Linked DNA regions of Homo sapiens. The protein of the gene in region 1 purifies or fractionates together with the protein of each later gene. This does not show direct contact. Each region holds a gene or a part of one and is shown in the gene's direction. Other genes may lie near its edges.

Region 1 (5,018 bases):
TTTCGCAGGTATGGGGAAGAGAGAAAAGAAAACAATATCCAATCAACAACTATTGAAAAACCTTATTAATGGGCAAAGGTGATCGGTTCAAATTGGTTGCCCAGAGCTGGATCCACTAGATCCTGGAGAAAGGATCCCTCTGGTGAGGCCAGAAGGGAAGCTTAATTTCAAGCCGAGCCTCCCTCTTGACTAGAAATACCAGCCCCAGGTGCTCCCATCTCTCTGGCCAGTCTGCATTCCGTGATTAGGGGCCCTAATGGCCATAATGCCTCCAAGGTGGTGTTGAAACCAATAAGTCTTCAGAGAAGTTATGGTATGTTTAATAACGGCTTAATGACTCCTTGTGAGATGCAAGGCTTCTGGTTCCTGTTTGGTCTTGATTTACAGCCCAACTCTGGCTGAGGAGCCAAGAAACCCCTTCTAAGCCCCCAGCGGAAGAGGGAGGTGTTCACACCAGGCCTCTTGGATTCCTTTAAAAATTGAGAATTCAAATGAAATACAAATGATGTTTGACTCCCCACCTCTCTTGCTAGTCTCCGGGGGCATTGATAATAAAAACAGTTTAACGCAGCCCCACGGGCTCCTCAATCCATGGGAAGTGAGCAGGGTCCTCGGGTCCTTGGGTATTTCTCCCCAGATCTTAGGTAGGGTGGTGGTTATTTCTCTTTTCTGAAATTCTAAGCTACTGCTCTAATCCTGTCTCCTTTTGGTTGGGGAGACTCAGCTCTTAGAAGATGCAGTTCTACCCTCATCCCTTCTGAATCGTCAGGCCTGGGGGAGCACAGCCCTGAGGTCCGAGCTGCAGACAGTCTCTCCAGTGGGTCCCCAGACACTTGGGTCATCTGCCCACTGAAACGCATTCACTCCAAGCTGCTGCCAGAGGAAACACCAGCCCTTCTGCTCATCCTCCACCTGTTCCAAAGGCTGCCCCTGCAGGACACTGTTCAGTCCTGAGCTGCCCATGGGAGTCTCCCTGTCTGCTCTGGCCCTGTCTCTACTTCTGAAACACACCTCAAATACATAGAAAGACCCAGGGTTGGCTTGGCCCGACCTCCACAGTCAGATGAGGACACTAATGATTGGCGCAAGGAACCATAGCTAATTAATGATAGTGTCCAGGTCCAAGCTCCCCAGCACCCCATTCCCAGCTTAGATCTGCTTCCACACAACACTCCCAATAGCTCCTTTCACTGTGAGAAACAAGAGATCTCTAAGGGAGGTGTTTTTTGCTGAGGCAACATTTTGTCCAGCTCCTAGCGGAGACCTAAGTAAAACTGCAGCCTAAGGCCTGCCTGTCTGCCCGCCCAGGCCCTCATCCCAGGCTGATGTCCAGAGTCCAGGCCCAAAAGTGTTTGGGGGGGATGCCCACACGGCCTCACCCCTCTAGGGGCAAGTGCCTCTAGGCTGGATATCAGGACCACGGGTGCTGCTCTGAGCAAGAGACTCACCTGGATGGGTAGACAAAGGGATCCTGCCCTAGAGAGGAAGCTGCTTCATCCTCTCCTGAGCTGCCTGGGACTGGGCTCTGGGTGAATGGGGGGAGGGGGTTCCCGGGCTCCGAGGGGTTAACCCGCACGGGGCCACACGTGACGTGGATGGTTCCAGCATTAAGTCAGAGGCGCGGCCCCCTCCCCTGCCCCCCGCCCCCCGCCCCCCGCGGCGCGCGCCGCTCCCGGGGGCTCCGCGCCCCCGCGCCCAGGTCCCTCCCCCTTGGCGGGCGCTCACAGGCGGCGCGGGCAGCGCGAGCCCCGGAGCCCCGGAGGCCTGTGCGCCCTGAGCCGGCATGGACCCCGAGCACTGCGCGCCTTTCCGCGTGGGGCCTGCACCCGGCCCCTATGTGGCCTCGGGGGACGAGCCTCCGGGCCCGCAGGGAACCCCCGCCGCTGCGCCTCACCTGCACCCCGCGCCGCCCCGCGGCCCGCGGCTGACCCGCTTTCCGGCCTGCGGGCCCCTGGAGCCCTACCTCCCAGAGCCGGCCAAGCCGCCCGCCAAGTACCTGCAGGACCTCGGGCCCGGCCCGGCCCTCAACGGCGGCCACTTCTACGAGGGCCCCGCGGAAGGTAACGCGCGGCGCGGGGCGTAGCGCGCAGCCCGACCCTCTCTTCTTCTTCCTTACCCGGGCCCACCCGGGCCTTCCTGCTTATCTCTCCCGCTCGCCTATTTCTCAACTTTTTGCCCCTCTCGCCTTTCGCCACGGCTTCCACGGAAGCCGGGTTGGCGCTGGCCCGGGCCAGGCAAAGGCCAGTGTGGGGCGGGAGGGTGAACCACCGTTCCTCGGCGGCGGGAATGGAAGGCGGGAGGTCGAGGGAAGGTGCAGTGGCGACGGCCCGGAGTCCAGTCGGGGCCCGAAAGCAGTTGGACCTGGGAAGGAGAGAGCATGCTCTGCCGAAGTTGGACTGGAACTGCCACCTACCCTGAAGCCCAGACCCGGCCGAGGGCTGTGGAGCCACACTGAGACCTGACGAAGAAGCGCGGCTTTTGTGTCTGGCGCCCTTTGAGGGCCCTGAGGCTGGGCCTCAACCTAGAGTGGTCAAATCGGGGTCGGCTGGGGACTGCGGCCTGGTCTTGGCCCGTCTCTCCTCCCCGGGCCTAGCCTTCACAGGAAGGGTGCTGCCTGTGCGGCAGACTGGCACAGTCTGGCCGCGACTGGTCGTGCAATGCCAGGGCTGTCCTCAAGACGGAATAACTGTATTCTTATTTCTCATACTAAGCTGGCCTCCCTGCCGTTATGCACTATGATAGCCGCCCTTCTGGCAGTCTTGGCTTCCCCGCGCTGGATCATCACCGCTGGGCAGTCAGGAGCAGCCCTGGGCAGCCTAACCCCCTGGCGCCGCGGGCTCACGGGCCGGTGCCCTGTGCTAAGGCCGGCTGGACCGCGCCGGCATCCGAGAATGCGCCTGAAGGCAGGGGCCTGGCAGGCTGATCGGCAGCTCTGCGGCCGTCCGCCGCACCCTATGACCTGTAAGGCGTCTCGGCTTCCGCACTGCACCCACCTTATCTGCGCTGCCATATCCCGCAGCCTAGGCCCAGAACTGGATCCTCCAAGATCCGCCTCAACCCCCTGCCGCCGCCCGGCTGGCGCCTCGCGGGCCTCCACGGAGTGGCCGGGCATCTCCGGCTTTCGCCCAGCCGGGGCGGTGGGAATGTGTAGGGGAGGGCGGGGAGGTGTGTGTGGGTCAACGGAGGAAATGAACGAGTCCGCGGAGCTTCGTGTCTGTGCCCTTTGAAAGAGGCTTTCCTGATAAAAACCACAGTTGGGACTTAATGAGAAGCAGTTGGCCTGGCTCCTCTGATCCCAGCCAGACGGCAGAGGCCGCGCAGTGCGGTGAGCACCGCCAGAGACAGGTACCCGGCCTGGCTCAGCGCTCCGCGTCGGGCAGGAGCCACCCCCCCAGGCCCGCGTCCCTGCTAGGCGCGCCGCATCCGGCACCGACAGCTCGGGCCCCCGGACCACACCGGTGCCGCGCGAACTGCAGAGAGCGCTGGTGCGGAACGAGCGGCCGGGAGAAACCCAGCACCCCGGGATCCGACGGCAAGGGTGGCCTTGACAACGAAATACCGAGAAAGAAAACCAAAGAAAGCGAGCGACAACCAAGAAAAGGGGAAGGGAAATTGAACAAAACAACGGAGAGCGCGGCGAGAACGAGAGGGTAAATGGCAGTCGGCGAGCTGGGATGAACTAAAATGAATAAATGAGGAACGAACGAATAAAAAAAGCAGGAGCAAGATCGAACGAAACGGATAACTAGAGAAGGGGGAAAGGACAAAGAGGGAGGGAGCAGACTAAACAAAAGAAAACGGAGCATGTTTAAAGCGTAGAATATATCAAAATGAGAACAAGGGGGTAAGAAAATTAACGATTTCAGTTGAACGGAGGACAGGCCAAACGAAAGGGAGGCAGGCGGGTGCGAGCAGAGCCTGGTAGAGATCCTGGCGGCCGCTAGCCTCTGGCGCTCTTGCCGGTGTTCAACGGGCTGCCAGCGTCCCTGCGGCAGAGCGGACCTCGGCGCAGCGCGGCGCGCGGTGGAGCCTGGCTGCTTGAGGACAGTCAGCCCCCAGGGCCGCACAGCCTACTTGGTGGGAAGTGGCGGGCGAAGAGGGAACCCGCCTTATTTCCCGGTTTTTAAAATAACCGGCTCGGAGCGTTTCCAGTCCACACGAGTGAGCGCGCAGCTGCGCCCCATCTGCGGCGCGATCTTTCACGAGGCTGGGCAGTTGCGCGCCCCAGAGCCTGGCGCACCTCGCTCTTCTCCCGCCTGCAGTCCGCCGCCCGCGCAGCCCCAGGCCGCCCTTTGCTGAGAGCGCCCAGCCTTGCTCTGAACCCAGGCTGCGTGCTGGCGCTGCCAGCCACTCTCGCGCCGTCCGCGCTTGGCTAGTCTGTCCCGAGTTTGGCTCTGACGTCGAAACACGCCCTCGGCAAGAGACTCCTACTAGAGTTTTGCCCGCTGCCGCTGAGGCCCTGAGCCGGATGACCCGGCCGATCGCCAAAGTCGAGGAGAGTCCCAAGTTCTTAGACCCGGGCTGAGGCTTCTGGGCCAACGCTGAGAACCCCCAAGAAGGGCACCGAGGCCTCACCGGGGTCCTGCCCACGGCGTTTATGTCCACTCTGGCTTTGAGTCTTCGGCGGGAGCTGCAGGAGCCTGGGCCTCAGCGAGTTCTGCAGGTCGCTTAGTGACCCCACAGTGGCCGGAGGAAACAGTGCGGCGCGGGACAAGGCTGCAGCGAAATGTGAAAGCCAAGGCTGGTCCCGCGGTCTCAATGGATGCCTTCTGTGGGGACAGTGGAGCACTCGGGCCTGCTGCGGCGCTGCTTCCTGGCTGCACAGTGGCTTAGAAGCAGCCGCTGGTAGGGGCTCTGGCACTCCTCCGGGTGAGGGGTGCTCAGGGTACGGCAGGCCTGAGAGCTGGGTCAGGGACAGAGAGCTCCTTTACTACGTTAAAAGGCTCCTGGCTTTCACGCCCAACAGCTGCTGCTGTGGCCCTGCGGTTATGCAGGCAGAAGACACCCCAGCGTTGTCT
Region 2 (4,108 bases), on another chromosome or scaffold:
CCTGGCCAAATGTGAGCTTGGGTGTGAATGAGGGGACCCTCTGCCTTAGGGCTCAGCCTCCAGCCTGGCCCTGGGTGATGGAGGCTCTGCCCTCAGGGTCTCTCTGTGGTGGAGCAAGAGAAACTGGACAACCTGATGCTGGAGTTGGATGGGACTGAGAACAAATGTGAGCCGGGGCCGGGAGAAAGTGGGGAAGCGTCAGGGTGGGGAGGCGTGGAGCAGATAGAGAGCTGAAGGGCCAGTGCTGTAGTGGCTTCCTCAGGAATGACTGTCAGGGGCATTCTCCTCTCAAAGCCAGAGCAAGGGGAGATGAGTTTAGCTGCAGAGGGAAGGACCGACAGTAGGCAGAAGGAAGACCTTCTTTGCAGCATACAGAGGAGGGGGATGGCCTGAGAGAGTCTGTGGTCTCAGGGATATTTAGAAAGAGGTGTGGCTCTCTGCCGTTTCCAATCTCCTCCTCCCCACCCATTCCTCTCCCTGCTGTTTTCAAGAGAGCATGGATGAGGTGTTGCTGGGGCAGGGGTGGGGAGGGAGGAGGGGGTCTCCTTTACTGGCTCCTTTTGGAGACTACAGATGGAGGCAGGAGCTAGAAAGGAGAAGGGGACATTGTGCTCAGCACCTTCCTCTATAATCTCCTAGCCAAGTTTGGGGCCAATGCCATCCTGGGTGTGTCTCTGGCCGTGTGTAAGGCAGGGGCAGCTGAGCGGGAACTGCCCCTGTATCGCCACATTGCTCAGCTGGCCGGGAACTCAGACCTCATCCTGCCTGTGCCGGTGAGCAATAAGCCAGCCTGCGGCTCTCCCAGGGGCGGGTGGGGGAGGGAGCATGCAACTCATGAGGAATGATGGGAGGAAAGTGAATTGAGGGAGGTAAAGAGGAAGGATGGGGACGTGAGACTTAGTCCGGAAAGCTGGGGGAAGTTTGGGATCTTGGGTTAACACTCCTGGGGCGGGCAGGGAGGGGCTCTTTGACCCTTCTGTCTTTCTGTGGCTCCCCAGGCCTTCAACGTGATCAATGGTGGCTCTCATGCTGGCAACAAGCTGGCCATGCAGGAGTTCATGATCCTCCCAGTGGGAGCTGAGAGCTTTCGGGATGCCATGCGACTAGGTGCAGAGGTCTACCATACACTCAAGGGAGTCATCAAGGACAAATACGGCAAGGATGCCACCAATGTGGGGGATGAAGGTGGCTTTGCCCCCAATATCCTGGAGAACAGTGAAGGTGAGGCCAGGAGCCCCACTCCCAGCTCTAAGTCTTACCCTATTGTGGGACATCAGAAAGGGTGACACAGTTCACCAAGTCCTGAGTAGGCGTGGAGGGTCCTAGGACTCTGCAAACTCCAAAAGGTACCAGTTCTTAGAGTGGATTGCAGAGAGCCTGCCAAATTCACATGCAGACCTAGGGGGACAGTATTTTTTTTTTTTTTTGAGACGGAGTCTTGCTCTGTCACCCAGGCTGGAGTGCAGTGGCTCGATCTCAGCTCACTGCAAGCTCCGCCTCCCGGGTTCACGCCATTCTCCTGCCTCAGCCTCCCGAGTAGCTGGGACTACAGGCGCCCGCCACCACGCCCGGCTAATTTTTTGTATTTTTTAGTAGAGACAGGGTTTCACTGTGGTCTCGAACTCCTGACCTTGTGATCGGCCCGCCTCGGCCTCCCAAAGTGCTGGGATTACAAGCGTGAGCCACCACGCCTGGCCAGGGGACAGTCTTTTACCTGCCTAGCCAGATGTGTTAGCATCTGTTAAGTTGCCACTGGAAGGCCGGGCGCGGTGGCTCACACCTGTAATCCCAGCACTTTGGGAGGCTGAGGCGGGTGGATCACCTGAGGTCAGGAGTTTGAGACCAGCCTGGCCAACAAGGTGAAACCCCGTCTCTACTAAAAATACAAAAATTAGCCGGGCATGGTGGCGTGTGCCTGTAATCACAGATACTAGCGGGGCTGAGGCAGGAGGATCGCTTGTACCCGGGAGGCGGAGGTTGTGGTGAGCCGAGATCATGCCACTGCACTCCAGCCTGGGCAACAGAGCGAGACTCCGTCTCAAAAAAAAAAAAAAAAAAAAAAGTTGTCACTGGAGCCCTTGGGAATACTGGGAGATGGTCTGGATGACTGTTGGATTCATCCCATCCATTCGAAATCTGTCCTGTCCCCGTCCCAACCTCCTAGGCCTCTAGAATCCCTAATTTTTCTGTGCCTTGGGGGAAACTGTATAGGGAATGGAAAGAATATAGGTAGTGGTTAAGAGTTAAGGTTCTGGGGCCAAATAACCTGGATTTATTTGAACCTTGACTTGTGGAGTTACTGCTGGTGAACTTTCTTACTTCTCTCTGGAAATAATAACAGAATCTAGCTCATGGTAGTGTGAGGCTTAAATGAAATATATATAAAATGCTTAGATGACATGATACCAATGAAAGTATAGTAAGTATTATTAAGAGAATTCCATTCCTCTGTGTTCCTAGAAGATGGCCTCTCCTCCCAGACCTGGGGATAACCCCAACAGCATCCCCGCCACACTTCCCTCAGGAACAGCCCTCCACCTCTGCCCTGAATGTCTTTTCTTTCCCTCCTCCTCCTTGCCCATCCCTCCTGCTTGTACTATAATCTCACTGTATTCTGTCCCCAGCCTTGGAGCTGGTGAAGGAAGCCATCGACAAGGCTGGCTACACGGAAAAGATCGTTATTGGCATGGATGTTGCTGCCTCAGAGTTTTATCGTGATGGCAAATATGACTTGGACTTCAAGTCTCCCACTGATCCTTCCCGATACATCACTGGGGACCAGCTGGGGGCACTCTACCAGGACTTTGTCAGGGACTATCCTGGTGAGAGGAAGTGGTGTGAGGGGGAGGTCTGGGGGCAGGCAGGGACGTGTCCCAGCAACTCTGGACCTTATGGGGTGCTGACTCAGGCACCAGGTGGGGGTGTCCTAAGAAGAACCTGAGAACCAGGGAGAGGGTGCAGGAGCCACCTGCAAAGACTGGGCTTTGTATGTAGTGTAAAAATGCAGGTACCCGTGACCAATCTGTTCTGTCTCAGATCCTGATTAAAGTCATGGGTTCTGAAAACTACTGGGGTCATGGGGAAGGCTCTGGAAGGAACCAGGGATGATATGAGTGTGACTGGATCTAGCAGAGAACTAGAACATTTCAGTATCTTTGATTGATGAAATTGTGGATGCTGAATGGAGCTGGGACTGATGTGTGAGTAGAAAGAAGGCTGAGGGGGACTGAATTAGCTTCTGCAAGTCTGCCCAGGGCCTTTATCTCAGGATGGAGGCAGTTGGTCGCCATCTTCCTGACACAGAGCGAAAGAAAATCAACATAATTGCAGAATTAAGGATTTGGATTAGCAATGAGGAAGGGCTTGCTGGCAGTGAGAACAGGAAAATGCAAAGCTAGGTTGTGAACCCTTGTTACTGGAAGATTTTTTTTGGGGGGGGGGTGGGGTTGTTTTTTTTGTTTTGTTTTTTTTTTTTGAGACAGAGTTTGACTCTTCTTGCCCAGGCTGGAGTGCAATGGCGCCATCTCGGCTCACCACAACCTCCACCTCCCGGATTCAAGCGATTCTTCTGCCTCAGCCTCCCGAATAGCTGGGATTACAGGCATGTGCCACCATGCCTGGCTAATTTTGTATTTTTAGTAGAGACAGGGGTTTCTCCATGTTGGTCAGGCTGGTCTCCAACTCCTGACCTCAGGTAATCTATCCACCTTGGTCTCCCAAAGTGCTGGGATTACAGGCGTGAGCCACCACGCCTGGCTGGTTTGCTTTTAATTAACTTTTTTTTTTTTTTTTTTTTTTTGTAGAGACAGGGTTTAGCCATGTTGCTCATGGCTGGTCTCAAACTACTGGGCTCAAGTGATCTGCATGCCTCGGCCTCCCAAAGTGCTGGGATTACAGGCATGAGCCACTGTGCCCAGCCTATGGAAGTGGCGTGAGATCTCTGCTCACTGCACGATTCTCTTAGCCTCCCAAGTAGCTGGGATTACAGGCGTGCACCACCATGCCTGGCTAATTTTTGTATTTTTAGTAGAGATGGGGTTTTACTATGTTAGCCAGGGAACTCCTATCCTCAAGTGATCCGTTCACCTCAGTATCCCAAAGTGCTGGG
Region 3 (4,299 bases), on another chromosome or scaffold:
TTTGCTCAGACTCTGCCACTTAATAGGTAGATGGTGTAAATTCCTAAATTATTAACTTGACTTTAAATAATTTTAAAACCTACCTAAATGAGTATTTTCTAGTTAAGTGACAATTAATCTAAAGTGGAAATCTATCAGCAGGGACTTAATGCATATGTGGTATTTATACCTGGTTAAATTAAAAACCCATTTACTGAGCATTTACATGCCAGGTGGTAATGGGCACATAAAATAAGCAGTTTGGGGCAGGGCACGGTGGCTCACGCCTGTAATCCCAGCACTTTGGGAGGCCGAGGCGGGCGGATCACCTGAAGTTCGGAGTTTGAGACCAGCCTGACCAACTTGGAGAAACACTGTCTCTACTAAAAATACAAAATTAGTTGGGCATGGTGGCGCATGCCTGTAATCCCAGCTACCCAGGAGGCTGAGGCAGGAGAATCTCTTGAACCTGGGAGGCAGCTGTGGTGAGCCAAGATTGTGCCATTGCACTCCAGCCTGGGCAACAAGAGGGAAACTCTGTCTCAAAAAAAAAAACAACAATAAAAACAAAACAAGCAAGCAGTCTCTGCCCACAGAACTCAACCTAGTGAACCAGATGATTTCTGAGTTTCCTTCCTGCTCTAAAATGTGGAGAAGAGAAAGTAGATTATAAGGGAAAAAAGTACTGCATAACAAAACAACTGTAGTATGGAACTAGTGTTTTCCCTTATAAATTCATTTTAAATAAGGTATTAGAAAATAGCATTTTTCTTGGTATCTCTAAGCTTTAAAAGGCTGGAAACTTAAATGTCGTTTTTTGGGCTGGGCATGGTAACTCACGCCTGTAATCCCAGCACTTTGGGAAGCCGAGGCAGGTGGATCACAAGATCAGGAGTTCGAAACCAGCCTAGCCAACATGATGAAACCGTGTCTCTACTAAAAATACAAAAATCAGATGGGTGTGGTGGTGCACGCCTGTAATCCCAGCTACTTGGGAGGCTGAGGCAGGAGAATTGCTTGAATCTGGGAGGTGAAAGTTGCAGTGAGCAGGGATCATGCCATTGCACTCCAGCTCTGGGCAACAGAGCAAGACTCCCTCTCGGGAGGTGGGGGGGGAAATGTCGTTTTTTTGTAATGCCAGTTCATTTACAAAATACATTTGCTTGTAATTCAAGTTCATGTATTAAGTTCTGATTGTTGTTCAGAGAGAAACAACATTAAATCTGTTAAAACTTAGAGCAGCCATTCCTAAGAATGTATATAACCTAGAATTGTGCCAGGCATGGTGGCTTATGCCTGTAATCCCAGCACTTTGGGAGGCTGAGGCGGCGGATCATGAGGTCAGGAGATCGAGACCATCCTGGCTAACGTGGTGAAACCCCGTCTCTACTAAAAATACAAAAAATTAGCCAGACGTGGTGGCGGGCACCTGTAGTCCCAGCTACTCGGGAGGTTTGAGGCAGGAGAATGGCATGAACCCAGGAGGAGGAGCTTGCAGTGAGCCAAGATCGCGCCACTGCACTCCAGCCTGGGCGACAGAGCGAGACTCCGTCTCAAAAAAAAACAAAAAACTAGAATTGTGCTTGGGTAGTCTAGAAATTAAGTTTATTTTGATTGATTGATTGATTGATTGAGATGGGGTCTTACTATGTTGGCCAGGCTGGTCTCCAACTCCTGGGCCCAAGTGATCCTCCCATTTCAGCCTCTCATAGTGCTGGGATTACAGATGTGAGCCACTGTGCCTGGCTGAAATTAAGTTTTTATTAGCATAATTAGCATTAGAGAAACAAGATACTGACCAAAGTGACCAGTAGAAGTTATTTTTTTACTGAGTTGACTAGTTTAAAAAAATGACCTTTACAATAATGTCTGGAGTCTGCATTTTGTTAGGTGCCTTATAATTAGAGAAAGGTATTGTCGGGGATAGGGAAGTTGGGTGTGGACTAAAATTTAAGGAAAACAGGATTGTTTTTCTTTCTGTATTAAGAACAAAAACTTCATGTGGTTAAAATTTTAAGCAGTATCCTGTCTGCCTTAGTTTTAACCTAGCATAGAATCATAGCTTGTTCTTAAATCAACAGTTTAGTGTCAAGGGTTTCTTACTATTTTTCTCTGCTGAAATCAACTAAGCACTTTGCAGTGAGCCTGAAGGTGTGTATAGTGGAGAGAATTTTGGCAGCTTTTATCTTGGGACCTCAGTTCCTGGCATGTGGTTATCCATCTTTATGTGAATTGTCTTCTGAAGGAGATAGAAAATGACCAGGGCAGAAATCTTGGAGAAAATTTAGAACCTTTGTTTTAGGGCCAGGCATGGTAGCTCACACCTGTAATCTCAGCACCTTGGGAGGCAGAGTTGGGAGGGTAGCTTGAGCCCAGGAGTTTTAGACCAGCCGGGGCAACAAAGTGAAACCCTGTCTCTATTAAAAAATTATTTTTAAAAATTAAAAGAACCTCTGTTTTAAATTATTCTTGATTTACACTGATGATGCTTTTGAGTACTTTAGAGAGTCATTAGCCACAGTGCTTTTTTTTTTTTTTTTTTTTTGCATTTGATAACTTCTTTGGCTTCTTACTTGATGCTAGTTTATTCACAGCCCTGGTGCAGGTCCAGGTACATGCCAGAAGTAGTAATATCTGCAATATGAAGTGATTTGAGCAGCCATTATCACCTTTGACCTATTTATAGAGTTTATATCAGTGGAGAAAAAGTTGGCTGGCAAGCAAGCAAAGCTGATCTCTGGTGGTTGCAATCTCACAATTTATATTTAAGTTCCGGGTAGGCCAAATTCAGTGCATTATGGACAGATCCATTCAGCTGTATTAATATTAGAGTTCCCTTTCTGTACTCTAACTTTTTAGCACTCCAGTTTCCCAGTCAGCTTCACTGTTGAAGGAAAGAAAACCGAAAAACTTACCACACTAAAAAAAAAAAGGAAGAGTTCCTTAATGTAATATGATAGTCAGTGTTCAGATTTCCCTCTTATCTCATAAATGTGTCAGATCAAGAGCCAAATAAGGTCTCTGCATTGTTTTGTAATCTGTAGGTTCCCCCTCCATTTCTTTTCCCTAGCAGATTATTAGTTACAAAAGAAGTTTTCCCAGTGTGGATTTAGCAGTTACATTCCTTTGGATTTCTGTGGTGGTGGTGGTAAACGTTTTTCTCTGACCCCTGGGTTTCTAGTTAATTGGTATTAGATTTAGAAGCTTGATCAGATTGTTTCTATAATATATATTCTTTCTCTTGCTTCTTTTGCAGGGGATGAGGGGAATACTTTATAGATGGTACTTGGATCAGTAGGTGCATAATATTTGGTTCCCTGTGATGTTAGTAGCTGTTGGTGATCGTTGCCCAGTTGTGTTAATTTGTTACTCATAATTCCTTACTCTGAATGGGGCATCCTCTCTCATCAGTCCTAGTTTGAGTCTTTTATGCTTGTTTATAGCTTCTTCAAACTTTTCTTTCTTTTGAGGATTAAGGGAAGGGATGAGTTGCTGTGGAGAAAAGGGCTCTTTCTACTATATTGTATTTCTGTAAGTGTTTTTTATTTTAGTCCTAATCTTTGGTTCTTGCATTGTCTGCATTGTCTATGCTGCAGCTTCTTGGTGGGAAAACTGACTCAAAATCCCAGCAAATAATTGAAAGAAGTCCTTCAAAACCAAATTTTTAAAAAAATTTTTTTCTGAGTTAGAGTCTTGCTCTGTCGCCCAGGCTGGAGTGCAGTGGCGCGATCTCAGCTCACTGCAACCTCCGTCTCCCGGGTTCAAGCGATTCTCCTGCCTCAGCCTCCTGAGTAGCTAGGATTACAGGTGTGTGCCACCATGCCTGGCTAATTTTTGTATTTTATTTTTGAGACGGAGCCTCACAGTGTCACCCGGGCTGGTGTGCAGTGGCATGATCTCAGCTACTTGCAACCTCTGCCTCCTGGGTTCAAGCGATTTTCCTGCCTCAGCCTCCTGAGTAGCTAGGATTACAGGTGCCTACCACCACGCTTGGCTAATTTTTGGTATTTTTAGTAGAGACGGGGTTTCACTAGGTTGGCCAGGCTGGTCTCGAACTCCTGACCTCGTGATCTGCCTGCCTTGGCCTCCCAAAGTGCTGGGATTACAGGTGTAAGCCACTGCGCCCAGCAGTTTTTGTATTTTTAATAGAGACGGGGTTTCAGCATGTTGGCTAGGCTGGTCTCGAATTCCTGACCTTGTGATCTGCCTGCCTCGGCCTCCCAAAGTGCTGGGATGACAGGCGTGAGCTACTGCGCCCGGCCTCGAAAACCAAAATTTATGGCCAGGTGTTGTGGCTCACACTTGTCATCTCAGCACTTT
Region 4 (4,299 bases), on another chromosome or scaffold:
CTGCAGTGAACTATGATTGTGTCACTGTAGACCTCTTCCTCTTCAGCTGCCTCAAAAAACGAACAAACAAACAAAATAGCCAGATCTCCTCTCTACAGAATTTTTTTTTTTAATTAGCCAGTGGTGGTAATGTACCTGTGGTCCTAGCTACTTGAGAGGCTGAGGTGGGAGAATCACTTGAGCCCAGGAGTTCAAGGCTGCAGTAAGCTATGATCAGGCTACTGTACTCCAGCCTGGGTAACAGAATGAGACCTTGTCGAAAAACAAACTACAACCCTATGAAGTATTGGCTGGGTGCTCTGGCTCACACCTATAATCCCAACAGTTTGGGAGGCCAAGGCAGGAGGATCACTTGAGCCCAGGAGTTCAAGACAAGACTGGGCAACATAGGAAGACCCCCATCTCTATAAAAAATTAGCCAGGCATTATGGCACACGCCTGTGTTCCCAGCTACTCAGGAGGCTGAGGGGGTAGGATGGATTGGGCCTGGGAGGCTACAGTGAGCCATGATCACACCACTGCACTCCAGCCTGGGAAATAGAGTGAGATCTTGTCTTTAAAAAATAAGATTAAAATAAGGTATTATCCCCACTTCACAGATGAGGAAACATCAAAGTTATTTAACTTGCCCAAAGTGGTTATACAGCTTAGTAAATGGCAGAGCTAAGGCAGTCCAGTCACCCACCTAATCAGTATGATTCGTTGCCTCCATTCGATATTAATCCCCAACAAAAGGCCAAGATCCTAGAAATAGAAATCCCCAAGTCCAGAATTACTTATAGTTCTTTTCTTCCTTCTACTTGAAGGTATACCCTTTAGCAGACCCTAATTGCTTGTTTTTCACTCTCATCTAAATGGGAAGACTGGGAACTGCTCTCACTAGAATATGCCCCTGACTCATAAAAAGGAAATAAAGGACCTTATACCCTAACATGGATGCCAGTTTGAAAGCTTAGTTTTTCAGATCTGAAGCAGCTTTCTCAGCATATTTTCTTGACTTCTAGAAAATCAGTCATCTAGGCTGGGTGCGGTGGCTCACGCCTGTAATCACTTGAACCTGGGAGGTGGAGGTTGCAGTTAGCCAAGATCATGCCACTGCACTCCAGCCTAGGCAGCAGAGCGAGACCCTGTCTCAAAAAAAGGAAAGAAAGAAAAAAGCCGGGCGCGGTGGCTCACGCCTGTAATCCCAGCACTTTGGGAGGCTGAGGCAGGCGGAACATGAGGTCAAGAGATCGAGACCATTCTGGCCAACATGGTGAAACCCCATCTCTACTAAAAATACAAAAATTAGCTGGGTGTGTTGGCACACGCCTGTAGTCCCAGCTACTCGGGAGGCTGAGGCAAGAGAATCACTTGAACTCGGGAGGCAGAGGTTGCAGTAAGCCAAAATCGTGCCACTGCACTCCAGCCTGGTGACAGAGTGAGACTCCATCTCAAAAAAAACAAAAAGAAAGAAAAATCAATCATCTTCTTTAATGTTAAATGAATTAATATTTATCAAGTACTTAGAATAGTGTCTGGCACAAATAAGGGAAAAATAAAATATATTTTAACGCAGCACAGCACATATCACTTCATTTTTTTCATCACTAGTGCTGAGTCAGCTTTGTACTTTTTTCTTATATGCACCGTTCACATGTAGCAAGGATGAATTTTTTTTTATTTTAGTAAGAGGCTAATCAAAAAAAACTACTAATTATCAGAGATGATATTTCCACTAACATGACACAGGTTGTGTTTAAAGCTTGAATTTGAAAAGAAGTTCTGAGAAAGTTCATTAATGTATTTTTTGTAATGAATCAACCTTCATACGAAAGTCTCTTATAATAATGATTTCATTCTGAATAAACTCGCTAATCTATAGTATAGATCTATGGTGGAGTATTGGATAATAAAACTAGTCCCTGAAATGAACTGTGTTTCTTCTTTTACTTTTTTTTTTTCCCCCCTGGCAGGGAGGGACAGGAAGGCGTGAGGAGGGCAACTCTTATTTCTTTAGGGTGGTCTCTTTCTTAATAAGGTCTCTATCTGCTGGTCTTAGATATCCAATACTCTGGGGGAAAAAAAAAAAATCCTAAAAGCCAGAAATGAAACAGCCAATGAAAAAAGAATTATGTTCACCCTTCCATCTCAGAGAATTAGGATAATAGTGTTTTCTAATAACCAGAAGCTTTAAAGGTTCCTATTAATTTAAACACAGGAGAAAAGTCAATCTGTGCTAATAATGTAACCTGGGATCCCGTATAATAGAAATTAGCCAGCATCATCAAAAGAAATGTATTTCCTCCAGTATTGTAAACATTTGTCTAATTTAGCTTTGGACAGTTTTGTAGCTACGGTTAGCCTAATGATGCCATTTATGAATTCAAAGCATTACCACTTTTGCAAGGATGCACAAAGTTCAGATAACTGCATTTACTCAGAAAAGTCTTTCACCTCTCCATTAATCCTTGGGATCTTTAAATGATTGCCTTTCAGTGGAAATGAATTTCACAAAACATGGTCAGTCAGTATGGTTCTAAGTTTGGCTGTGCACTTAGATTACCTGAGAAGCTGTTGAGTTTCCAACATCCAAGCCACATCCCAAGCCAATTAAATCAGAATCTTTGTGAGACCCAGGCATCAGATTTGTTAAAGCTGCCAGGTTATTACAATATGTAGCAAAGCTTTTGAACCACTTGTCTCAGGACTGTGTTTAGGCAGGTACTTATGGTTCTGCTCCATTGCGTTTTGATGACTCAATATGCAAAGAATTTCAAGTGTTTTTTTCTGAGCCTAAAGAATTGAGTTAAAGTAGACAAAATGGTATTGGATCCAAGACAATTCTTTTATGCTTGCTCATTTCAAATCCTGTATAAACAGATGTTGATTTGTTGTTTTGAAGATTGAGATAGCTTTTTGGGCTTCCACCCATAATGAAGAATAAACTCCAATTTTAGAGTGACATCTCAAGTACACCTATACGAGTCACATCACTGAGTATAACCAATTGTGCAGTTTATACACTCTGCACTGATTGTGATCTATTGTCACTTTGGCAATGGCTTTTTTCTATTTTCATACCTCTTTTCACACCTCCTGCTATTTTGCAACTTCTAATTACTATCACTTCTCTCTTCTACTCCACTGCTTTTTATCAGTCAACTCTTCTACATTTCAGTTTTAAAATACTTTTTATAGACGACTCTTGTTTCGCCTACATTTCAGCATAAAAACACCTATTTTCTAGATATTACCCAATCATGGCCTTGTGAAAAACAGTAGAGATCAAAGATCTTGTTCTAAATTTTTCACTTTGTCCTCCTCTAAAATATTTCTTGTGCATGCATCTATTACAGATATCACACCATCTTATTTGGTGGGCTGTGAATTGTGAACAAGGGCAGTGCTTTACTCATCTTTGCATGAGTTAAACCAGTACCTACCACATGAAAATCTGTCAAAAGAAACTGATAAAAGCTGCATCTAGGCTGGACATGTTGACCCACACTTGTAATCCCAGCGCTTTGGGAGGCTGAGGGGAGGATCACTTGAGGCCAGGAATTCAAGACCACCTTGGGGCTGGGCACAGTGGCTCATGCCTGTAATCCTAGCACTTTGGGAGGCCAAGGCGGGCAGATCACTGGTCAGGAGTTCAAAACCAGCCTAGCCAACATGGTGAAACCCCATCTCTACTAAAAATATTAAAAAATTGGTGGGGCGTGGTGGCAGGTGCCTTTAATCCCAGCTACTTGGGAGGCTGAGGAGGAGAATCGCTTGAACCCAGGAGGCAAAGGTTGCAGTGAACCGAGATCGTGCCATTGCACTCCAGCCTGGGCAACAAGAGCAAAACTCCATCTAAAAAAAAAAAAAAATACCGGGCGTGGTGGCTCACGCCTGTAATCCCAGCACTTTGGGAGGCCAAGGCAGGTGGATCACAAGGTCAGGAGATCGAGAGCATCCTGGCTAACACAGTGAAACCCCGTCTTTACTAAAAATACAAAAAATTAGCCAGGCGTGGTGGCAGGCGCCTGTAGTCGTAGCTACTCGGGAGGCTGAGGCAGGAGAATAGCGTGAACCCAGGAGGCGGAGCTTGCAGTGAGCCTAGATCGCGCCACTGCACTCCAGCCTGGGCGACAGAGTGAGACTCCATCTCAAAAAAAAAAAAAAAAAGGCTAAAGACCACCTTTGGCAACATAGCGAGATGGACAGTCCTAGCTATTTGGGAGGTTGAAGTAAGAGGATCACTTGAGCCCAGGAGTTCAAGGCTGCAGTGAGCTATGATTGTGACACTGCATTCCAGCCTGGGTGACAGAGTGA
Region 5 (4,299 bases), on another chromosome or scaffold:
ATCAGTCAACACCAGGCAGAGAGGGGACCTTGAGTGTCTGACGGTGAAGTTATCATAAGCTAGTTCCCAGAGCAGAACATGGGTGGTCCCTGTAGCTTGGTCCTCCCAGGAGTCTCGGATGTAAGGTTAGCAGTCCTGCTGTTAATTCTGTCACAAATTTTGGACATATTTTCCTTTCTCATATCTGGAGAAAGAATACATAGTCAAGGTCAGTCCTATAAAAACAAATAACCATGAGGTAACTCTCAATATGTGGGTTTCCCTGGTTCTGGAATTCTGCTTGCTTCACTGTTAATGTCAGCATTTGTCAGTCATTTCCCCTCCGGTTCCCTGGTTGGAGGTCAAAGAAGGTGAAGCCATAGGTTTAACATACCTCAAATTTTTGTGGTGAATTGATTACAGGAACAAGTCACACTCTGTAAGTGAATTACTGGGTGTTGTCTGATGAATTAATGAAGTTTAAGAAGTTCTTTCAAAGATCCGTGGCTTCGTGTGTTCATTTCAGTTCTACCAGCAATATTTCTGAGAGCAGAACAAGTCTTGCGTCTTCTCCCTACTTCTCTTCTCTGGCAGTTTCTTGGATCTACATAATTGATAATCTCTTAAGAAGAAAATATTTTATCCTTTTGGAAATTCGTTTTTGAAAGTTGGAGTTTGTGAACCTCTAAAACTGCATCATGGTTTTTCTCTCCCCTTCACCCCCCTCCCCCAGCCCCCAAGAAAGCCCCAGTTTTAGCCTTTGCTTGGCTTCCTTGGAATTTCACTTATGAATACGCACACACACCATCTTTTGAGACTGAAAAAAAAAAAAAAAACCTCTCAAATAATAAAAGAACATCCTGGAGCTCTGACAGGTCTGGATTCTAGGGCATTGATTCCCTGATGTTAGGATGAGGAACTCCCTGCCATGTGACTGGATATGGTCATGGTGCCCTGTATTGTTTAATTGCTTTTGACATCAGTGATCCAGTTTGCACTTAAAAGGATAATCCTGGACTAGATCAAATTCAGTGAGGGAGGACTGGAATGCTTCATAAAGCTAAGAAAGTACAATTATTCTCAGCTAAGAGATTTTCCAACTATAGAAGCTCTCAGGAGATGTTACTGCTCCCCCAAATCCTGCTGAGTGGGCCTCCGATGAAAGCAGATTATTTGTGCTGGTGTGTTGGAGGGGAAGAAGGATGAAAAATCATGAAATCTGAGACCCAATGAGTTCAATTTCTTGGTTCACAGATGAGGAAAGGGATGTTTCTAAATGTTTAATAGAAAGGTAAAGAGGTTTGCTCAGTGTCACATATTTAGTGGCATACCAAATGATCTGTTGAAATGAGCACAGGGCTGGGAGTCAGGAGTCTGGATTCTTCCAATAACTGATTCCGATAGCTTTCCTGTGCCCACTGGCCTGTAGGTTCACATCAGGTCCCAGAGAATGCTGCATACCCCAGGGCTATCCTTATGCCAGATTTGGACAGCTCCAGGGATGAGTATATCCTTGTCTTGCAGGGTAACAGATACTCACTACATCTTTCATGAGCCTTGCTCTGTTGAATTTTTTCAAGGCCTGGCATGTTGGGAATTTGCCTAGACAGCTATGAGGCAGTAGTTTCACGTGGCTCCTAGCCATACTTTTTGTTTAAAGGCAGTGTGAGACTCTTCAAACTTTTGATTTTTATCATTTAAGATTGTTAGAGATAACCCATGATTCATAGCCTAAGACGTAATATATAGCTTTTATCATTGCATTCTCTGCTCAGAAACCTTCAGTGGACTTCCTCTTGCTACCATATAAAGCTCAAATAGGTTACCATAGCATCCACAGCCTGGCTCCCTCTCAACCTTCCCAGTCCTATCTTCCCCAACTCTGCCGCCTTCCAGCCAAAGGTAACAATGAGTGCTTTGTCTTATGCCTGACACTTCTGCATCTCTTGGCCTTGTTTAGTCTTTCTTGGGAGGTGTAGAGGCTTTAGAATGGATAGATATGGGATTAATTTTTAGTTTTCCCAGTCTCTATCTGTGTGACTGTCAGCAAATTCCATAAGATTTTTCAGCTTTAGTTCTCCCATCTGCAAAATGGGGAAATAATGGGGCCTACGTTCCTATTTTAAGTTAAGTTTAAGAGATGAGTGATGTAAAGCACCCAGCATAGGGCCTGATTCTCAGTAACCATTGGAGATACATTTATTCTTTTTATTAGTTAAAATAGTAGACCTTTCCTCTTCCTCTTCTACATGTTCAAATCATAACTATCCTAACATATAAATGCACCTATTTCTGTGAGTTCTTCCTTCACTCCATCTACAACTCCCAAAAGTATACCATTTCTCCATTTTCTGAATTCCCACAGTAACAATTTTGTTCCTCTTCTGTCATTTTTCATTTTTAACCTTGTTTTGGAAAAAGTGATAATTTCGTTATTACTTAGGTGAGCTTCCTGAAATCAAGAACTGTCTTAGTGATTCTTGTATCTCCTAAAGCAGAGGTTCCCAGATTTGGATGATTACTAAATGGATAATTATTATTAATCATCAGGGGCTTTAAAATGTGATTCAAAATTACAGATACAGGCTCAGTAGGTCTGAGTTGGGTGATTCACAACCATCTTCCCTCCAAATACCTAAAACAGGGGGTGGTTCAGTGTATGTTTGTTGAATGAATAATAACTTGGTTCCATGCATATGAAATGTTGTTGAGGAAGATTTCTGCATGGTGGCAGGAGGTTTTCTCACTTTAGTTGTTTGGCTTCCTGGCTGGTCAGTTGGAAGAGAACGTTTCAGGACTGTTGACTGCCTGACTTCTCACTATTTTCTACTTACAAGTTCTGGCTAATGTTGCAAACTTTCACCCCCTTTCCCACCCCACTTTTTCTTCTTTAGTTCTTATTACTTAAAACTATACTTCAAAATACCCTTGACATATTGTACCTGTTTCATGCACAATTCTGGAATTTAAACAAACATGAGGGATACTTTTCTTTCTTATCTGTGTCCTTTATAATCAGGAATGGTTTGACAGTGTCTGGTTTTTTTTTTTTTTCTCCCACTTTTCCCAACCATTTAAAAAAAGGAAAAAAAAATGCTGTTTATTTATTCATTTTTCTACTCAAAACAAGCTTGCCCCTGCTTGTTTTGTTTCTGTGTTGTTGCTTTGTTCCATTTGACCTTTGTTTTTCTTCTTAGGATTAAAAGGAAGGCGAAAAATAAATACACAATTACATTAGGCAATTCTGTTTTGGTCCTAGAGTCCTCTCTTGAAACTTCTTGTATCTTGACCATAATCTATTTGATTAGGATTAAAAGGAAGGGGAAAAATAAAGACACAATTACATTAGACAATTCTATTTTGGTCCTAGAGTCCTCTTGGAACTTCCTTTATCTTGACCATAATCTATTTGATTAGTGGTTCCTAGGGGAAAACAAAGTAAACTCTAGGAATTTCCTCACTCTTACTCTGTTTTATCAACTGCTATCTCTTTCTATAATGCATGCCTTAAAATGAAATTGAAAACCCAGACAAGTGCATCATATAGATCTTATTAGTTTAGAATAAAAATGCTTTCCTGAATTTCATATTTAAATTATTTTTACCTATTTGTAGAATATGTATATTTTATCTGCAAATTATTTCAAATAGAAGATTGATTTCATATCTTCTTGAAATAGCTGTTATGAAATTGTTCTAATGGTTATTTCCTCAAAAGATGAAGCTTTTCCCCCCTCTCTTTAACAACTGAACACTTTTTTGTGCTTAAACCATCAAAACTTACAGGTCACCATCTTTATGTCTCACTCCTTAGGAAGAAAACCTGAGAGATTGTTCATCTAGCTAGATTTTAGGTCCCGTGTGCTAAGGAATTAGAATCACAATTGTTCCTCCTTGGGATTGTCCCATATCTGAAAGCCTGGTCAGCTCCTTACCAGTCATCTATTGCCCGTATAAGTGATAAGTGCCACAGAGGCTTAAAATTTAATTAGATGAGGCTGGGCATGGTGGTTCAAGCCTGTAATCCCAGCACTTTGGGAGGCCGAGGTGGGCGTATCACGAGGTCAGGAGATCGAGACCATCCTGGCTAACACGGTGAAACCCCGTCTCTACTAAAAATACAAAAAGAAATTAGGCGGGCGTGGTGGCAGGCGCCTGTAGTCCCAGCTACTCGGGAGGCTGAGGCAGGAGAATGGCGTGAACCCGGGAGGCGGAGCTTGCAGTGAGCCGAGATGGCGCCACCGCACTCCAGCCTGGGCGACAGAGCAAGACTCCGCCTCAAAAAAAAAAAATAATAATAATAATTAGATGAGGGCAGCA
Region 6 (4,894 bases), on another chromosome or scaffold:
GTATATTCTAGGTTACAGTGTAAAATGTCTTACTGTGGGTTATGGATCAAAAAGTTGGAAAACTCAGTGGGTGAGAAGTTAGAAGATAATGTTGGATAAGTAACACACCTGTAGAAGGATTTGGCCCACAGACCACCAGTTTGCAGTCTCTGAGCTAAATTGTGGAGGATATTGAATATGAGTATACATACATAGAACTCAGTTTGTAGGTAAGTTGCAGCCAGAACAGAGAACGATATAATAAAAACTCTTTTAGAGACATTAATATGACCCCGTCTCAAGACTGGTGGGAACAGAGACTGAAGGCAGAAAGGTCATTTAAGTATCACTAAGGCAATCTAAAAATGAGACCCGAATTCAGAATCAGAAAAGGAGCAATAGGGAAGGAGATAATGTAGGTAAAACATGGCGCCGAGTAGAAAAGATAGGGTTTTAGAGCTGGGAGAGACCTTTGGAATCATAGATTTCATCACCATCTTCGTCCAAGTAGGGAAAGTAATAACAGGAGAGGAAAAAACGGAACCCTCTCAGAATTTGTCAATGACGTCACACTGACTTAATAAAAGAGCTTTCAATAGTTAATGCAATTAACAGAAGGCTTGGATTCCCTTCAGGATGTGAAGGGCGAGCCCTCAAATTTACTTTTTATTCAATGGATTAAAATGGCCAGTAATTCTTATCCTTTTAAACCCGACTTCCAATTAATTAATTACAAGTGAGCCTATGGGGCGTGCCCAATCAATTCCTTCCCCATCCTGAAATGGGTCCTTTAGCATTCTCATAAACAGTACGTTTCCTGAAATACCACTAAACCCTCTTAAGAAGTTTTCTATGATTTCAGCAGTTTAGGCCTTCTGAATGAGCCCAGAACTCCTCATCTGCTTGTTAATTTTCCAACTGCAAAGCGTTATTGAACATTTAATGACCCTGCCCCACGCAACGCCCACTGCGGCCGGGCGAGGGAAACCGGAGTAGGTCGAGGAAGGGGAGGCCTGCGCTTTCGGGAGGGAAGCCGCTGGGGCTAGTCTGGCTGAAGCTGGGCACTTCCTTTTTTCCCTCGATACTTAAGGCTACGGGGACACAGGGCGGGCAGGCACAACGGCTGGCGCGTCTCTCTACCCTTGCCCAGAGTCCGCCTTGAATAATCAGCTAACAACCCCAATTCCCTTGAACCCAGCACGGGAGACCCGGCGCCAATGGCTAGGTCGGTCTCAGTCCCATCCCGATGCTAGCCCCGGGAAGCTCCTGGAGCGCCTCTGGTTTCCGGGTGCGAATAGTAAACTGCTCGGGAAACCCCAGAACCCTCCCTTTGAGGAAGGGTGCAGACGGCGTCTCCGTTTCCACGGAAACAGGCCGAGCCATGTCGTCACTTCCGCCGACCTGTCTGGACTCCAGACTGTTGGGAGGAAAAGAGGAAAACTGAGCAACAGCCACGACAGTGGACGCGAGCGTCTCCTCTGTGCGCATGCGCCCGCTCAGCGGCCTGCTTCTATTTATGTGGGGGATCCAACATGGCGGCCGCGGCGACCCTGGCGATGGCGGTGAAGCCCATCAGAACGTAGTAGCGGGGAAGGGGACACGGTCCGCACTCACCGTGGCGCCGGCGGAGACGGCTGAGGGTGGTGGAGGGAAGAAAAGCGACAGAGAGCAAGAGGAAGGGCGGGCAGGCACGCAGCGCGCCGTAGAAGCGAGCGCCGGCTCGAGCAAAAGCGGAGGGCCAGAACAGTGGGGATGGCGGAGCCGCGCAGAGTAGCGTTCATTAGCTTGTCACCGGTGCGGCGGCGCGAGGCCGAGTACCCGGGGCCCGAGCGTGAGCCCGAGTACCCCCGCGAGCCCCCCCGGCTGGAGCCGCAGCCGTACCGCGAGCCGGCCCGGGCGGAGCCGCCGGCCCCGCGGGAGCCTGCCCCCCGCTCGGACGCGCAGCCCCCGTCGCGGGAGAAGCCGCTCCCCCAGCGCGAGGTCAGCCGCGCCGAGCCGCCCATGTCGCTGCAGCGGGAGCCCCCGCGGCCCGAGCCGCCGCCGCCGTTCCCGCCGCTGCCCTTGCAGCCGCCCCCGCCGCGGGAGTCGGCTTCCCGGGCTGAGCAGCCGCCGCGGCCGCCGAGGGAGACGGTGCGCCTGGAGCTGGTGCTTAAGGACCCCACCGACGAGAGCTGCGTGGAGTTCAGTTACCCGGAGCTGCTGCTGTGCGGAGAACAACGGGTACAGAAGATTCTTCCCTCCTGCCCCAGACCCCGGGAGCCTCAGGACCCGCCGCCTTCCCCAGCTGGTTTGCACCTTGGGACGCCCACCGAGCGCGTCCGGGTCGCCCCGAGGGTGGGGTGCGGGGGGCCGGGGCCGAGCGGGTGGACGGGGCGGTGAGCGCTGCTTTCTCCACTCCCCAGGGTGGCCGAGGCTCTCACCCGGCTGCGCCGAATCCCCAAACCCCCGGCACTCGCTCCCAACGCCGCGCCGAGCTCGTTTTCTTGTGCACCTTTCGGAACCTCAGATTTTCCTTCTTTCCTTTCTGCTCCCCACACAAAATCCTGGGGCCCTGCAGGCCGTGTGGCTGGGTTCTCCCTGTGGCGCTACAGCTGTCGTTCCAGTAGAAAGGAAGAGAAAACCTTGGGGGACACGCCCCCCAGTCTGAAGCAGAGATTGTGTAACCCCTCTCGTATCATCCTCATCCTCATCACTGTTTGTTTTGCTGGGCGCCGTGGCTGCTGAGGTGTGCTTGCGTGCCTGTGATATTTTTCTTAATCGAAGGGAATTTAAGAATAATTAAAGGTTTTCAGAGACTAAGGATCCCACTTTAGGAATGGAGAAGTGGGTTAGTTAATCTGGTTACTAATTTTTCTCTCGTGTTGGTATTGGAAAACCTTTTTAGCTTTCCTTTTTTGTGGAGTTCGTTCATATTGTAATTGAATGGGAAGGTGTCTCCTGTTTTATTTGACACCTACCCGTCATATTATTTAAGTGTACTATCATTAGTTTATAGAAGGATATTGTATTCAGCCTTTGTAATTTTCGGAGGATGATGAAAAAAATGTCAGCTTTGAATTTTTTAAAATAATTGAAAATATATAGGTATGCTTTTGATGTAAGAGGTGAACAATGGAGAAAGGATAGGGGTTATGTTCGTAATTGTAATTTTTATTGTTGTGGGTTGGTGGATCTTCAGAAGTAAGTTAGAAAAGGAAATGATAGATTAACAGTAAGGAAAGAGAACAGTTTTCTCTGTTGCTTAGCAATTATACCCGTTATTAGGTTTTGCTTTAGCTTGAGTCTAATGGACTCCAGAAGTCCCTTGTTTTGTTTTCATCTTCAACTACCTTTATGGTCAAAATGACTGACTGCTTAGTCACAAAGTATCATGTTGAACAATTTCACTAGGTTTTGTTTACTTCATGGCCAGCTAATGTTTTGATCATTATTTAGAAATGTTATGTGGTCAAATCATTACAAAATGTTTTCAACCAAAATGAATTGTTTAAAGGTAGAGATCATTTTGGTCACTTCCACCTAACATTTTGCTCGTCAGACTCACTTGAATGCCCCTTCTTTATAAATCTGAGGTCACTTTTTTCCCAAAAGAATATTAAAAATATTGGATTGGAGCATTTTTCAAACATTGTATTTGAGCTGCTAATCTAAGTTGGTTTGCAGTTTTTGTAATTTTCATAAATTACAGGAGAAAAGCATTATCTTTGGATAAAAATACATAGCAATAACGACATTTACTGGTTCTTACTGTGTGCTAGACACAGTTCTAAGCACTGCACATGGTTTTTCTAGTAGTCCAACAGAACTCCACGAGGTAAAAACTATTATCCTCACTTTACAAATGTATGTAATTTTATTAGTACTTCTTTCCATAGTGATACAATTTGTTAGTAAAACAAAATTTCTTAAAATTAACTCATATAGTTTAGAGGATTCTGCCAAAATGACGTAAAATGTAAGTCGCAGTAGAAATACAAAGACCTTTATTATGTCTCTGTTTATGCTGTAATATTCACACGATGGCAAATTAATAATGTGTATCATTTAATTATAAAAAGAAAAAGGTTTGACACCCTAGCTTTGTTAACTTGATAACACCAGAACTACTACTTTCATGCAATAGGAGAAAGAGGAAAAATTCCATTTAATTTTTCTGTATACTTATTAACAGTATAGGTGTCTATTGGCCCAATTATCTCGTATATCAACCTTCTATTTTTTTCATATACCTCTGAACAAAACAAAATCCATTGTATATAATCACCTTTGCAACAAAGATTTGCCACATTTTCCTGTGATTGCTGCCAGTGTATATCCTTATTATGCAAGAAAGCATAGAAAACATATGTTTAAGTAAAATTGTCATGGTTTCATGAAAGGAAATCCTAGAAGAGAGACCATCAAAAAGCAAAATGCGAACATTAGAATTGGTCTGGAAAGTTGGTGGTTCCCAAAATTAGAAGAATTAGAAAAGGAAGGGCTCCACATTTTTGAAATAGCCATCTATCACTAAATAAGATTTTAGCTCCAGATGCTGAAATTGGTAGATGTGGGGCTATTAAAAAAAAACAAACAACAAAAGGTGTGTTACATATGGATACCATTCATGTGGGTGCATTTAAATCAGTTCCCTTCTTAAATACTAAATGAACAGTAAAACCCTGATTTACTGGAACATAATCAGAAATTTTTCTATGCTCTATTTGTATTAATGAGGAAAGCACAATTAAATAATTTATGTTGGGAAAATAGGAAAAACAAAACCACAGGTTAGCTAAACCTTTAACCTTATTGTCTCTAGGCAGTACAGTGCTGTGATTGAGATGGTTTAGGATGATGACTGGCATTGGAATCATCTCTATCCTGAAAGATTAATTTGGTCACCATTTCTGGCTAAAGGGTAATAGTGCATTTT
Region 7 (4,299 bases), on another chromosome or scaffold:
TCTTATTTGTCTTATGTTTCCTTATGATTAGATTCAGATTTTGCCTTTTTTTTTTTTTTTTTGAGACCAAGTCTCGCTCTGTTGCCCAGGCTGGAGTGCAGTGGCGCGATCTCAGCTCACTGCAACCTCCACCTCCCGAGTTCAAGCGATTCTTCTGCCTCAGCCTCCTGAGTAGCTCAGACTACAGACACGTGCCACCACACCCAGCTAATTTTTGTATTTTTAGTAGAGATGGGTTTCACCATGTTGGCCAGCCTGATCTCGAACTCCTGACCTCGTGATTCACCTGCCTCGGCCTCCCAAAGCGTTGGGATTACAGGCGTGAGCCACCGTGCGCAGCCCAGATTTTGCATTTTTGCATGTATATTTTTGAGGAAAGATGGGGCCTCTAGAGGTCACATATTTATAATCCACATATGCCTCCTGGCTGTAGGTAAGTTTTATTTGGCCCAAACAAACTAAAAGTTGTTTCAGAATTATTTTCTAATATTTAAAAGTTGAGGGATTTCACATAAAGATCTGGGTGTCTGACTCTCTTGAAAAACTTAAGTATCTGGTAACAGTGGGCATGCATTTTCCTAACTAGAATTGAATAGTGGCTTCCCTTTTAGGTGGGAAATGTGCTTTCCATTTTGCTGTCATCCAGTTTTGCCCCTTAAGTTACAATATAGTGGTGTAGTGTGGAGCTTTAGATGCAGACTCCTGAGATTGAATTCTGCTCCCTCATTTACTTGCGCAAGCAATTTAACTTCTCTGAGCCTCCATTTCCTCATCTATCAAATAGGAGTGATATGGTTCTGGTAGGGATTGAGATATTATATAGCACATAAAACATTGCTGGCATACAGTAAAAATAAACATTGTTATCATCATCATTATCACCATCATCACCACCACCTTCACTACTGCCTATCTGACCCCAGTAGATATATATTCTGTATGTATATATATATATATGTATTCTGATCCCAGGACGTTTATTCTGTAAACTTATGTTGAGTGTCTAGTCAAGTGGATTTTCTCAAATGGGGTTCCATTAACTTATTTCCCATGCAGCCAGAATGGTACTAGTTTTGTACCACCTTTCAGAAAATTGAGAATATAGTCACTCAAACCATTTTCTGTGTTCTGTGGTTCAGATAAGGAACCTGATTAAGTGTCGAGTAGTGTACTCAGCACCAGGGTAAAGATGGCAGACACAGTCCCATGGAACTGGCTGGCTGTCCATGGAAGGTAAGTAAGTACCAACAGCAGAGTGGTGAGTTTTATCACGGGAGGACACGGTAGCAAAGAGGATCTAACATGGCCTAGTAGTCATGGAATTCCTTCCTTAGAAGATCTGTTTAAAGGTGTATCCTTATGAGAGGCCTGGGATTCCTTACGGGGTTTTTCAGAAACATTAAAACTGTTTCATTAGTCATGGAATAAAAAGCTATGGATGTTGAAATCCAAGTTAGCTTCAAAGACTCTTATGCTGGCTTAGGTTAGATAATCTTTTAAACTATTAAAAATAGAACTAGTTTATTATGGAAATGGTTATATACCTAAGAACATTTAATAATTTTGTTTGAGTAATGTACATTTTTATCAATGAAGGAAAATATCCAGAATATGTAACCTACCGTTTTAAGTAACATGATTTAAAAACTCTTCTGCTTTTGGTGATAGTTGTCTTATCAACTTTAAATGATAAGGTTTATTGAGTTATAAAAATAATAACTTGGCCAAATGCAGTGGCTTATACCTGTAATCCCAATGCTTTGTGAGGCCAAGGTGGAGGAGGCTCACTTGAGACCAGGAGTTGGAGGTTACAGTGAGCTGTGATTATGCCACTGCACTCCAGGCTGGGCAACAGAGTGAGACCCTGTCTCTAAATAATAATAACAATAACTCAACAAAAGAAAGTTTGTTATTTATGTTTTTACTGACTGGGTATTTTTACCTTATTTTATATTTCAAATTTGGCATTTTATTGAGGTCCTGAGAAGGTTCTTTTGGAGTCTACTTTTATTATGGGCCATTCTAGATTATGTCACCAGTTTATCTAAAGTGGACACTAAATATAGGACAGTTTTGGTGTTAGGCCAAAGACCAGGGGACTTGAAAAATGAAAACCTCACCTGACAGATTCTACTCTGTTTTTTTTCCTTCTTCCCGAAATCCATTATTATTTTTTGCTTAATCTCTCCTTCAATATATGGGTAAGCCTTTAATCACTGTTTCGGAGGTTTAGTTGACTTCTGTAAATAGAAGAAGAGTTAGTGTATTTGATCATAGTTTCCAAACCACTTTTAATACTGTACCTTACTTGAAAATTAACCAGCTAAACTATCGAGTAACAGTGAGTTCTTGTTGCTTTCTGTTATTTCCAGGCTGTTTCCTAACCCTCCTAGTACTGGTTTTGAAAACTAAATTAGCCATTCAAAAAAACTCTTAGACACTTTGAGCAAACAGTAGCTTCCTTGAAGATAGCATTTGTGTCTAATTCATCTTTTCATCTCTCCATTGTACCTGGCAGGATGTCTTCCACAAAGGAGACATTAATAAGTATCTGGTGAAGAAAGATTAAATGGTTGAGAGAGTCCAGCATCTGTTATGTGATATATGTGACCCTTCATAATTATGATTCTGGATCCTTGGCTGCTAATGAGATTTACTGTGGCTGAGTTTAGTGATACAGATTTTGGCATGTAGATGATAGTCTCCAAAAAAGTAGAGATCATGTTTTTTTTTTTTTTTCCGTTTTGTCATTCACCATTTTATCCCTAGCCCTTAAGATTTTGCCAGACACATGGTAGATATTCCATACTTGTCAAACAATGAATGAATGAATTCCCAAGAGCATCACTTGTTATTGGTCAGTAGACTTTCTAATAGTGAGAGATGGAACCGGAATTTGAAAGAAGTAATGGAAAATGGTTAAGTACCTTATGAATTTTAAATTAATATACCATAGGTGTGGGCATTAATTTTGAGAAACAAGACTCTTCTGTTCAACACATACTTTAGCAACTGTCAACACTTGTTTTCAAGTGTTCTCTTCCAATTTTAAAATGCCAGTTTACCTTTCAGATTTAGAGTATTTTGTTGTTGTTAGTTTATTATGGCAGTTTTCTTGCTAAAGTTATATTTAAAGTGTGACTTTCTAACTTCTAGAGGAGAGGAACTTTTGTTAAGGTGGTACTTTTGGAACCTTAATGAAAAACACACCTTAGAGAAGGTGAATTTAGAGTTCTGCTAAGCACATTCATTTACTCTTCTATTATAAACTGGTTTTGTAATATTTTATAAAATTGTCTCACTGGTTGATTTCACAATGTAAACTGGGAGGATTCTTAGGATTCCTTGGGTTGGATTAGAACAGGTTCAAGAGATGAAGATTTGTGTTGGTAGGGGCTTGTTTCCAAACGTTTGTCCTTGGCATGCTCTTTGTTAAGCCATCACATGTTTGAAAGTTAAACCTTGAATTGGTGCCATGGTTTGCATTTAAAAAAATGTATTTTATTATGGTAAGAACACAACATAAGATCTACTCTCTTACCACATTTTTAAGTGTACAATAAAGTATTGTAAACTGTAGGTACAATGTTGTATAGCAGATCTCTGGCACTGATTCATCTTGTATAATTGAAACTTTATGCCGCTTGATTAGCTCTTTCCCATCCTCCCAGCCCTGGTCATCATCTTTCTACTCTCTGATTCTATGAGTTTGACTATTAGACGTACATTTTTGTTTTTGCTATAAGCATCTGTCCTGTTGCTATGCTGATCATTTATTTACTCTGTAGTTTTGGAAATGACCTGCTTACAAGATAACCATGCCTCCCCTTATGTTAAAAAACTGCCATATGGATAAAGGGCAGTTAAGACCTTTACAACTGGTAGAAACCAAGTAGAAAATTCAGTTTGAAGGACCAAATTATGTTGCAGCTGCTCTGAGGAGGAGATTTGTTGCCAGAGCATGAGTGTTTTCATAATTGTTTGTGATCAGAAAATTCAGAGCTCTGATTTCTGCATTAGCCCTAAGTCTGCCCTTTGGCACCTTCATTTAGTGATTGGATCATTCAAGGCTGAGCCTCAAGGGCCAGCATTTCTCCAGTAATAATATAAAATGGGCTGATGTTGCAACCTTAACTCACTCTGCTGAATTGGGCATGATTAAAGTCTCAAGGCTGCATTAATATGGATTTTCTATTTCTATGTACAGCCGTCCATTATCTCACTATTTTCCAGTTTGCCATTTTTTGAAAACAAAGATGGAAAATTCTGCTGATGAAATTTTTTTTTTGTCTGTCAGCA

Evidence for each region.
Region 2: the proteins of ALX3 (region 1) and ENO2 purify together in Homo sapiens (affinity purification with mass spectrometry; one large-scale study listed by BioGRID and IntAct). This does not show direct contact.
Region 3: the proteins of ALX3 (region 1) and ARK2N purify together in Homo sapiens (affinity purification with mass spectrometry; 2 studies listed by BioGRID and IntAct, with this or other methods). This does not show direct contact.
Region 4: the proteins of ALX3 (region 1) and IKBIP purify together in Homo sapiens (affinity purification with mass spectrometry; 2 studies listed by BioGRID and IntAct, with this or other methods). This does not show direct contact.
Region 5: the proteins of ALX3 (region 1) and P3H2 purify together in Homo sapiens (affinity purification with mass spectrometry; 2 studies listed by BioGRID and IntAct, with this or other methods). This does not show direct contact.
Region 6: the proteins of ALX3 (region 1) and UBN2 purify together in Homo sapiens (affinity purification with mass spectrometry; 2 studies listed by BioGRID and IntAct, with this or other methods). This does not show direct contact.
Region 7: the proteins of ALX3 (region 1) and FTO purify together in Homo sapiens (affinity purification with mass spectrometry; 2 studies listed by BioGRID and IntAct, with this or other methods). This does not show direct contact.

What each region holds. Positions count from the first base shown.
Region 1 is NC_000001.11:110,067,378-110,072,395, reverse strand, and holds the start of ALX3 (homeobox protein aristaless-like 3), read left to right. Parts: upstream 1-1,723; 5' UTR 1,724-1,783; coding exon 1,784-2,060; intron 2,061-5,018. UniProt on the Homo sapiens protein: Transcriptional regulator with a possible role in patterning of mesoderm during development.
Region 2 is NC_000012.12:6,916,942-6,921,049, forward strand, and holds part of ENO2 (gamma-enolase), read left to right. Parts: intron 1-96; coding exon 97-166; intron 167-639; coding exon 640-773; intron 774-998; coding exon 999-1,221; intron 1,222-2,624; coding exon 2,625-2,822; intron 2,823-4,108. UniProt on the Homo sapiens protein: Has neurotrophic and neuroprotective properties on a broad spectrum of central nervous system (CNS) neurons. Binds, in a calcium-dependent manner, to cultured neocortical neurons and promotes cell survival.
Region 3 is NC_000018.10:46,180,181-46,184,479, forward strand, and holds part of ARK2N (protein ARK2N), read left to right. Parts: intron 1-4,299. UniProt on the Homo sapiens protein: AMPK substrate important for exercise capacity and skeletal muscle function.
Region 4 is NC_000012.12:98,634,564-98,638,862, reverse strand, and holds part of IKBIP (inhibitor of nuclear factor kappa-B kinase-interacting protein), read left to right. Parts: intron 1-4,299. UniProt on the Homo sapiens protein: Target of p53/TP53 with pro-apoptotic function.
Region 5 is NC_000003.12:190,114,162-190,118,460, reverse strand, and holds part of P3H2 (prolyl 3-hydroxylase 2 isoform a precursor), read left to right. Parts: intron 1-4,299. UniProt on the Homo sapiens protein: Prolyl 3-hydroxylase that catalyzes the post-translational formation of 3-hydroxyproline on collagens. Contributes to proline 3-hydroxylation of collagen COL4A1 and COL1A1 in tendons, the eye sclera and in the eye lens capsule.
Region 6 is NC_000007.14:139,229,754-139,234,647, forward strand, and holds the start of UBN2 (ubinuclein-2), read left to right. Parts: upstream 1-1,483; 5' UTR 1,484-1,731; coding exon 1,732-2,199; intron 2,200-2,667; exon of another isoform or gene 2,668-2,704; intron 2,705-4,894.
Region 7 is NC_000016.10:53,710,222-53,714,520, forward strand, and holds part of FTO (alpha-ketoglutarate-dependent dioxygenase FTO), read left to right. Parts: intron 1-4,299.